2 separate regions of the Homo sapiens genome follow, and region 1 is linked to region 2. Evidence: fine-mapped expression QTL. A gene starts in region 2. The other region holds a variant in brackets. All regions are shown on one strand. Distances are from middle to middle. Region 1 has its middle 110 kb from the start of REEP3. Region 2 holds the start of ADO (2-aminoethanethiol dioxygenase).

Region 1 (5,373 bases), 820 kb after region 2:
CTCTATGAAAAAATACAAAAATTAGCTGGGTGTCGTGGCGCATGCCCATATTCCCAGCTAATTGGGGGGCTAAGCTGGGAGGATTGCTTAAACCTTGGGAGGTCAAAGCTGCAGTGAGCTGAGATTGTGCTGCACTCCAGCCTGGGTGACAAAGTGAGACCTTGTCTCAAAAAAAAAAAATTCCAAAAGAAACTCCACTTCAAAATATAAAGTCATAAATTCAGTATGTAGAAATTATAAATATTTTATTAATTTATCTTGTAACGAAAGGGGATGTTGTAGCACGTGATGTATTTGGAAGAAGAATTAATACTTTATAAGGCTTGTGATGCCCCTTACATTCAGTTGTGATAACCAACAGTAGTATATGTTTGTTTTCACACTTTGCGAAGAGGCATCATCCCGATTTTACAAATACGCAGAGACTCACTAGTGACCAACCTGTGACCGGGTGCAGTGGCTCATGCCTGTAATCCCAACACTTTGGGAGGGTGAGGCGGGCGGATCACTTGAGCACAGTTGGAGACCAGCCTGGGCAACATGGCAAAACCCCATCTCTATAAAAAATACAAAAATTAGCTGGACGTGGTGGCTGGCGCACACCTGTAGTCCCAGCTATTTGCGGGGCTGAGGCAAGAGGATCGCTTGAGCCCGGGAAATTGAGGCTACAATGAGCTGTGATTGCACCACCACACTTCAGCCTAGGTGACACAGTGAGATGCTGTCTCAAAAACAAAAACAAAAAACAGTGACCAACCTACGACCCAAGCAACCGCAATGTTTGTGACTTCGGACTCTGTTGTTAATTACGTCACAGTTGGTTGTCTTAGAGATCACAGAATACTTGGAAAGTTAACATGGAAATGATTCCTTCCATACATGTATTATATAATACAAAAGTTTCAGATTATCAGAATGTTAAATGAAGTAAAGTTGTTAAGTCATTGGAAGTTAATGGATTTGGTTTCAAGAGTAGCTTTAGTACAGAGAGAAAGGATGCTTTTAAAGTGAATAGAAAAAAATGAAGACAAATAATTTACTATCAGTTATGGACTAAGACAAACAGGAAGAATCTGAAGAGAGGATGCAGCTGAAACAGGAGGAGTATCCTCTCAGGAAGTGCTTTCCTTCCTTCCTCTCCTTTCCACCAACATTTGTTCCACGGCTTCCTCTCTTCAAACCACACCTTGTAAACCCTTTTATGTGCTCTGTTCACAACAAGAATTTCATGTGCTGTTCCATACTGGGTTTTAACTAATAAAATGCACACACACACACACAAAAGGCTAAATGCCTTTTTACACAGGAGATTAACTTTATTCAGTCTTTAAGCTGAAAGCAAGTACAGTTAGGATATATAGCAGGCGACAGTTTCCATATGTTCTAGGAAAGTGGAGCTGTATTATTTATAGTTTACAACATGTTGTATAAAATTAAAGCTAGCAAGGGGGCTCCCAGGGAGGTAAATTAAACAAAGAAGGGAAGACTTAGAGAACTCTATTTTGCTATAATCAGAGAACATGCCTATAAGAAAGCACTAAAAAAAATAATATTTAACATTAAACAATATGCAAAAGTACTTGGGGTGTTTACAATAGCTTAAATTCTAAAATTAAAAAGGACATTGAAGACTGAGAAGGGGAAAAACACCTTAATTTTGTAATCTTAATAGAAAGAAAAATGTGTCCTAAAAGCAGGAGTAAATAAATGTCATTAAAAAGGTGTATCTTCCAAAGTGCAAAGACACGTTACAAGAAATCAGGTTGCTCTTTGACCCACCAGTCTCAAAGCACATTAGACTGCAGCAAGTAATAATTGCTTCCTCATTTAGATTAGACAATGAGTGCTCTCTGCAAGCTGCTCTCCTCTAAATAGATTGTAGAGAGTAATTGAAACAAGTTATATGGGGAAGTGGAGTGACCGATTCCTCAAAGTGTGGGAGCAGAGCTATGGTAACCTCTTGAGCCTGGCCTTCATCCTGTTCCTATTTAGGGAATCCGCGGGGCAGCCAGTGTTGAGTGCAGTCTGCAGTTCGCCGGCTTTATTGTTCAGACTTGAAGAGAAGGTCACATGCCCTCTTTGACAGAGAGGTTTATGGGCTCTCTCTAATTAGCAGCACCCTCCACCAGACAGACTGTTGGCCACTTTCCAAGAACGGGACTTGGTAGCGGCCACTGATGAAGGAGAAAACAAGGTTATTTACCCTGCGACTGTAATTCTTGGCACAAATTCTCCCTTTACACTCAGACACGTTTTTTCTTTTGTTCCAACTTGCCTTTGGAATCCTGATTAGGGCGTTAAGAGAGGGAAATGCAGCTATATATTTAGTGGTGTAAGCAACCCATATGTTGGCCTTAGATACTTTTGACTATTCTAAGACCTCATACCAAAAGAGAGAAAGAAAAAGGAAAACGAAAAGGGCAGCGTAGTCGAGCGTTGCTTGCAAATGTAACTGCTTAAGCACATGCCCACACACAACTCCAGAAAAGGAAGTTTAATTTGCAACATCTATAAAATAACGACAGTTGTATGGTAGGACACAGAAATCCCAGCGGTAAAGTGTGATTGGGCTTAGCTATTATTGGAGTGTTAAAAGAGTACCGGGAATATATTTGGCTTGTCCTGTTCTGTCAGTTCT[G/C]TAGGCCGGTGGATTAAGCTGATAGAAATGCTTTTTGGTTGATTTAAACCAGATGCTCCGACTATTTTTGTCCCGTTTGCAGGCGCAGAAGCTCTGCATAAGGCAATACTGCCCCCCTCGGCCGACCGCCAACTGCAAGGCGTAGGAGACTGCTCTCCACTAGCCACCTCGGCCATAAAACCCTTTCAAGTCCCTATTATTATTCCAGGCACATTCCAAGGGGATTGAGTCACAGAGTTCACTTGGCTTTTCTCCTGCCCTGAACTGCCTGTACCAGGTGGAATACGACTCTCAACTTCAAATATGGAATCCAAAAGCAGTCAAAGAGCGCTTTAGAGCAAGCCCCAGATGCGAACTCTACTGCCACTTCTCCCCCTCCCCCAACTGGGGTTTGCTGGCTGCGCAGCTGTAGTCCCACGCCAGCACTAAGGTCGCCTGGTCGACAAATGAGGGTTTTCTTTGGGGCATCCTGTAGAGCTGTCCTATTTTCTCTACCACTTTGAGAAGCCCCAAGGGCTGCTTGGCGGCGAGGCACAGACTGGGCTGAAAACTTTTCCGTTGGGCAGTGCGTCCCGGAGACCCAGGAGGCCCAGGCCGGGAGCCCAGGGGGCTGGAGGTTCTGCTGGCTTTTAAGTCTGCTAGGAGGGAAAACTCCCAGCCCCTCCCACGCGTCCTCCCAGACTCGCCGGCCGCCTGCCCCGGGCGGGGAACGCGCACATCTGGCGGCCCAGGAGCCACATCTGATGCACTAACCCCCGCACCCAGATGTCCAAGAGGCCGGGGGAGTCAAAGAACGCCAGGGGCGGGGCGACCGCGGCTGCGGCTCCTCCCTCGGGCAGAGGGAGTCCAGATGCGAGGGACGCCCTCCAGAGCCGAGCTGGGCCGGCCGGGCAGCTAGGGTGCTGGGAGGTTGCGGTGCAGGGTGGGTGGGTGCAGTGAGGCTGGAGCCACGCTGGGGGGGCTGGGCTGGCGGGGGGAGGCTGGAGCCGCGCCGGGGAGAGGGAGGCGGCGGTTGGGTGCTGGAGGGCGCTGGTGCCGTGCCAGTGGGCGGTGGCGCCTTACGCCACCCGCCCCACCCCCGTCACCGTGCCCGCCCCACTGCGTGGGATTTTACAACCTAGGTCCCCGGGAGGTGGTGGTGGAGGGAGGGGCGGCGGGGACGTTTCCGGGGCGGGGGAGGGGCGCACTGCTCCAGAACTGGACCGAGGGCGGGGCTCCCCTCTGCTTCTCCCCTCTGTTCCAGCGCTGAGACGCAGGCCTTTCCTGGCGCGAAGCGACTCGCCCCGGAGCTCCCCTGCACCGTCCTGGGTGTCAGGACGCGTCAACCCAGATGACCCGACCCGGAGATCCTGGATCCTCTGCCCTCTTCCCCCTACCAAGTCCTTAACCGGAGAGGGAGGAGCTACCAATGTCCTCCAGACGTTCTCCAAAGCCCGAGCTGCCGGGAGAAGCTTGCTCAAGGCGGGTGCGCCCCTCAGACGTTTGTTTGCACGCAGGGGTTTTGACGTTTCGCTAAGCAACAGCGTTTGCCAGGGAATCAGGGCTGTTTCGAAGAGCTTGCGTCTATTTGATGCTCCCATCTTGAACAAATCGTTTCCATTCGATTTGTTTAACCAAGGCGAGGGCGGACTATGTTGTTACTTAAAAGTTATTCTTCATCCAAGCTGTCCTCAGATTTTCATCTAAGGGTGTCATAACACCCCAGGTCGTTGCGCAAATGTTTTGTGACAATTTAGAAAACCAGAGGGGGGAAATATCCTTAGAGAAAAAATCATAACCAACAAGAAAATTATGTTAAATGATGTTGGTCCTTTTTCATCGGATGGTCCCAGTTGACACATAGTCTTTTACAAAACCAGTGACTATTCACAGTCTTCAATTTATGGCACATCTCCCGGTGGGGGCGAAGTGCATGAATGGGTCCCACCTTATTCACCAGCTGAAACTCTGAACAAGCCTTGGGGTTTCCTCTCCCAAAGACTGCCAGGCTTCACTAAGAATCAAAACAAAACAGGATACTAAATGCCTGCGGTAAGTTTTCAAATATGAGCTCTTCCATTGCTTATTTCTGTGAATTGTGGCAAATTGCATAATGTCTTTTGCCCCTGGTGCTGCTTAGAGACAGGGTCTCACTGTGTTGCGCAGGCTAAAGTACAATGGCACGATCCTAGCTCGTTGCAGCCTCAAACCCCTGGGCTCAGACTATCCTCTGGCCTCAGCCTCCCAACCAGCAAGGGTTACAGTCGCATGCCACCACACCTGGTTAATTTTTTATTTTTGTTTTTTAGAGATAGGGGACTCACTATGTTGCCCAGGCTCGCCTGAAATTCCTAGCCTCAAGCATTCCTCCCAGCTCAGCCTCCCAAAGTGTTGAGATTACAGGCGTGAGCCACCATGCCTGGCAAGCTTCATCATTTCTAAAATGTAACTGTATATTTTAGAGTAGCATAGGAGTGGTGTAAGGGTTAAGGATTAATGATACTGCAAATCAAGTGCTTAACACAAAGTTTAATGCATAGGAAGAACATAATTGTTATTATCAATGTGAGTAGACTGTTTACCACCAAAATGAAAGGTGTGGGCAATGGTAACTGGGTAGCCTCCAGAGATCCTTTTTTAAAAGGAGTATGAGTTTTAATACATTCGTTGAATGAATAAAACCCACAACACTCTAGGCACATCTCCAGTCCTTGCCCTGGCAGGGCTTTCAGTCTAACTAGAGGAAATTGGATGAA
Region 2 (5,373 bases):
ATTTTTTTTTTTGTAAAGATGGGGGTCTTGCTATGTTGCCTAGGCTGGCCTTGAACACCTGTCCTCAAGCGATCTTCCTGTCTTGGCCTCCCAAAGTGTTGGGATTACAGGCATGAGCCACCATACCATGCCTGCCTGGTTCTTAAAATTTTTAATGTGCAAAAGATTCAGATGCAGTAGGTTTTGACGTGATCTGGGAATCTGCACTTTTGACAGACACTCCCAAGTGATTCTGATACAGGCAGTCTTCGGAAACTTTGAACTCAGGCCAAAGGATGACTAGCAAATTACCAGGTAAATGGTTTAAGCAATAATCTTTTTTATCTCTACCCTGAAGCTGATTCTCAAAACAAGTCAAATTCCATTTCAATACTTGCTTAGTATTATTTAAATTCATTGGTCTTTAAGTACAACTTATAGCCATTTTAAACCTATAATAGCTACTGTCATGGGGCAGCTACTATGTTCTACATAGTGTCATCAGTGATTTACACAGGTATATTATCCCATTTTATAGATGAAAATTTTGAGCTTCAGTTAAGTAAGTGTGGACAACCATTAAGTGCAAGAGATCTGCATGTTAATATAGTCTGTGTTCCATGGAGTCTATACTTACCACTAATTATACCCTAATAGAAGTAAAACCAATAAATAAAAGTCCATATTTGTAAATAAAGGAAGGGGAAGAATTTTACTCTCAAATACTTCTCACTTTAGAAAAAAGACTGTATGAAATTTATTTATCAGCTTTGAAAGTACATTTAAATAACGTAACAATGGCATGGCAACCTCTAAAAATGAATCAGTCTTAACAATCCTTTCCTAAAGCAAATAACCACCCTCTTAACTAATGAAAGCTGGTTCACTATTTACAGCTCTACCAGTGGTTCTCAAACTGAGCTAATGATCAAGAATCGCTTGGACGAGCGCCGTGGCTCACGCCTGTAATCCCAGCACTTTGGGAGGCCGAGGGGGGCGGATCACGAGCTCAGGAGATCGAGACCATTCTGGCTAACATGGTGAAACCCCGTCTCTACTAAATATACAGAAAAAAAAATTAGGCGGGTGTGATGGCGGGCATCTGTAGTCCCAGCTACTCCGGAGGCTGAGGCAGGAGAATGGCGTGAACCCGGGAGGCGGAGCTTGCAGTGAGCCGAGATCGCACCAGTGCACTCCCGCCTGGGCAACAGACCCAGACTCCGTCTCAAAAAAAAAAATAATAATAATAATTGCTTGAGGAAGCATCTTAAATATAAATCATAGGGGCAACCCGCTGTGGTCCCCTTCCAAGCTGTGGAAGCTTTGTTATTTCGCTCTTCACGATAAACCTTGTTACCCCTCAAAACAAACAAACAAACAAACAAAAAAAAACCACACACAAAAAAATAGGCTTCACTCCAGTTCTTCTGAATCAAAATCTCTGAGGTGTGACCCCAAGATCTTTATTTTTTAAGCTCTCCAGGGGGTTCTGATGAGTAGGGTTCAGAACTTTTGTTCCCTTAACACCGGCATTCTACAAATGAATAAATTGAGGCCCTAAAAGGGTAGGATTTGCCTAACGACACACAGCTTGTAAGTACACACAGTAGGCTGGAACAACAATATCCTGACTCTCGTTTGGTGCTTTTACACCAATTCAAGCTGCTGTTTTTGGTAAGACTGTACTTATTTCTGCTCTGCTGCTCATGCTTTGCTGGGTACTTAGTATTCACTATCCTACAACTTATTCCCTCATCTGCAATCTGGGAATAATAATAGTGCCTGCCTCTTAAGAGTTGCTGCAAGGATTAAATAGTATAACATTCATTATATAATGCACTTAACACAGTGCCTGGCATATTGTGAGTACTCATTAGCCAGGTTATGTAATCCACTTTAAAAAGTATGCCTATTTTAACTGGAGAGGATTCACTGAACCACTCCAATTACAAAATGTACAAGAAACCCATGTTCAGCTTTGGAATCCAAAAAGACTTTAAACTCAGGGTTAAGTTTAAAGTCATAGTATCTAATGTCTTGCTTTTCTAGTCATTTACTTATGCCAAAAGTTAGTTCACGCCAAGGAGAAGGATGCCTCTGTGTAGTGAAACAATTTCACAATTACTGACTGAACTGACTGTTGCACACCACTATTTCTCCTAGGATGCCTCAGAACCATCTAGTAACTCCATCTCTGGGTGACGACAGGGAATCTGCATTTATAAAAGCCCGCTCCCCCTTCTCAGGCAAACCAAGATTTGATAACCACTAGTATGTTCAGAATCCACGACCACTGTAAATGGCCTCTCAAGTCTCTCCAGCAAAAAGCTATACTGCTCTGTAACCAGAAGAGCAGCGTCATCAGGTCCTGATGCAAACAACAGCTGGGCCCAGCTGGGCCCAGCTGGGCCGAGTAACCTTGATGATCACAGAGGACGGCCTGGACCCCCTCCCCTCCTAGGAAACACAAAATTATAAAAGCGCCCTCCTGCAATTCCCGTGGGAGACAGTGCTGCCTAGGCCGCTACGAGGAGCTAAGGCTGACTCAACAGCCTCCTTCCCAGGGGCAAGGCCAAAGGAAGGCGACCCTGCATGGCTAACCAGGCCCCAGCGCGGCGCCAGAAGGTTAACGACCCTCCCTGCCCCTTTCCTTATGAAGGCCAAGAGCCTCCACTACTCCGGGGGCCAGCTGACGGAAGTGCGTCACTCCACCCTGCGGGGAGTGCCGGGAGTTGTAGTCAAGTGGCTACTAATCTTCCACCCCGATTCATCTTTTCTAAAACAAGAAAAACACCTCTGCATCCTGAAAAAGATCGCTTTATGCCCAACATGTGTAATAGTTCCTCTATTTTCCAATCAACAAACTGAACTATCTCAGAGCTCAAGCGGAAGGCCGGACTACAAGTCCCGGCATGCTCCGCAGGGTCCCCGGGCGCCCGGCCACCGTCGTAGGTGCGGGCCGCATGAATGGAGCGCCGGGCGTAAGGCAAAGCCTGGCACCGTCTGCGCGGCCGCTATCTGCTCCCGGAGCGTGAGTGCGGGGTGTGGGGCGTGCGCGTGCGCGCTCAGAGGGGGCTCAAGGCGAGCGCGCCGGGCAGTTGCGGGCGCGTGGCTGCTGAGGTTGGCGGCGGTGCCGCGCGCCCGACGGGCCGGTGGTTGCGGGGCCTCCCGCCTCGACCCGGGCTGGGGGCAGCCGTGGCGGCCGCCGGGGACCGCAAGGGGCGGAGGAAAGGAGGGGGCCGGTCCCGGCACGCAGAGGAGCAGCCGACCATGCCCCGAGACAACATGGCCTCCTTGATCCAACGGATCGCCCGCCAGGCTTGCCTCACCTTCCGGGGCAGCGGGGGCGGCCGCGGCGCTTCCGATCGCGACGCGGCTTCTGGCCCGGAGGCGCCGATGCAGCCGGGCTTCCCCGAGAACCTGAGCAAGCTGAAGAGCCTCCTGACCCAGCTCCGCGCCGAGGACTTGAACATCGCCCCGCGCAAGGCCACACTGCAGCCGCTGCCGCCCAACCTGCCGCCAGTCACCTACATGCACATCTACGAGACGGACGGCTTCAGCCTGGGCGTGTTCCTGCTCAAGAGCGGCACGTCCATCCCGCTGCACGACCACCCGGGCATGCACGGCATGCTCAAGGTGCTGTACGGCACCGTGCGCATCAGCTGCATGGACAAGCTAGACGCGGGCGGCGGGCAACGGCCGCGGGCCTTGCCGCCCGAGCAGCAGTTCGAGCCGCCGCTGCAGCCCCGGGAGCGAGAAGCCGTGCGGCCGGGCGTGCTGCGTTCGCGGGCCGAGTACACCGAGGCCAGCGGCCCCTGCATCCTCACACCGCACCGGGACAACCTGCACCAGATCGACGCCGTGGAAGGGCCTGCCGCCTTCCTGGACATCCTGGCCCCGCCCTACGACCCGGACGATGGCCGGGACTGCCACTATTACCGGGTGCTGGAGCCGGTCAGGCCCAAGGAGGCCTCCAGCTCGGCCTGTGACCTGCCTCGAGAGGTGTGGCTCCTGGAGACCCCACAGGCCGATGACTTCTGGTGCGAGGGAGAACCCTATCCAGGTCCCAAGGTCTTCCCTTGAAGCCACTGGCGCCCAGGAGCGGTGGGCCGAAGACGTGCCCTACCCTACCACAAGGGCTGTGTCTCTACCCCCTAGCCTGGGCGTTGGATCTACTGGAATGAGCAGCAGCCGCTTCCTCGGCAGCCTTGGGAAGCACGGGCGACTGGACAGCAGCCGCCGGGCACGGTTATGGGGGCGGGGTGGGCGGGGAGGCTAGATTGTTTCCTGGTACTGTCACTGCCACTGGGGCTTTGATTTGGAGGAATGGGGCAGGGGACTATCTGAAGCGCTTCCATCCTAAAGCCATAATGAAAATATCTTCCTCTCTTCCCCATTCTATACAAAATACTAAGTGGTTTTCTTGCTCCCACTCCCTACCCCTTAGTTAAATAGGGTTTATTTTCCACTCATGCCCTTATGCCTTTTTTTCTTATAGTTTTTTAACTTATTGACTGTGCATGACCCAGTGGTTTGAATTGTTTTTAGTTCAAGTCATTGGTAAAAACTAGGTTTAAGGAGATGAGCTACTGTTTAAAGTGAGCTGGCCTGCCTAATTAATTCCTTGTGAAAACTAAATGATTTTTTCAGTTTGGGGATCATTCTCACAACATAACTATGCATGTAGAGGACAAGATTTATTTTCTTTCCTCCCTTTGCCCAGTAGCCACATCTGGTTTACTCAGGCAGCATCTACTAAGAAATTCAGCACCTGCATATCTCTGTGACATGGTCACTTAGAGCTTATCTTCCCTATGAATCTCCAGATCTGTGAGTCGAGCAGATTTCATGTTGCAGATTCACCTTTAATGCAAAGACTGTATTATCCTCACATGACTTTTTTTCTTGTCTTACTGTACCTTAAAAGGTGATAGAGTAATTCTGTATTTTCTAACGGGAAGATTCAAAGGAGCTGAATGTGTTATGCTTCCAAACAACTGAATGTAAAACACTCCTAGCCAGTTGTTGCATTCCCTATATTTATTTACTTCCAATATTTTACTGTAAAAGTAGGGAGAAATATTATGTTGATAGTTGTTTCATATTCTCTCAGGAACTTTAATGTTCCCGACTCGGGTGATTCCAGCTGTGTTGCTGGCAGTGTTGTCTCAACCCTCTCCCTAAAATGACTGAGCCCTGGGTTCATCTAATGTGGTTTTCCTTAGGAAGAGATAGAAGGCACAGAAGATCACAGCTAGAGAATTGAGAATTAACTATACTACTAGCCATTTTAGGGCACCAAAACTTGGGATTAAACACTTCCTACTTCCCACTCCCAACTCCTGAAATGAAGTCTTGCTATCTGTGACTAGTTTTATTTTTGTGCTTTTAATA

What was found. PIP is the estimated chance that this variant, and not a neighbour inherited with it, causes the effect. A credible set is the group of variants that fine-mapping cannot tell apart.
Region 1: its variant is the best candidate, but not a certain one, in a credible set for the expression of ADO in esophagus mucosa (GTEx, PIP 0.53).

Annotation. Positions count from the first base shown.
Region 1 is chr10:63,626,811-63,632,183 of GRCh38, forward strand. No RefSeq gene overlaps it. Among named protein-coding and RNA genes, the nearest start is that of REEP3, 110 kb to the left of the region's middle. RefSeq lists enhancers at 2,206-2,415, 2,806-2,985, 2,996-3,045 and a silencer at 3,516-3,845. The variant G/C (reference allele first, on the strand shown) is at 2,639.
Region 2 is chr10:62,801,811-62,807,183 of GRCh38, forward strand. It overlaps ADO (2-aminoethanethiol dioxygenase), which reads left to right and starts at 2,910. Exons shown (of 1, transcript NM_032804.6): 1 at 2,910-5,373. The coding sequence starts at 3,250. The coding sequence ends at 4,062. RefSeq lists enhancers at 2,665-2,924, 3,395-3,514 and a silencer at 2,965-3,214.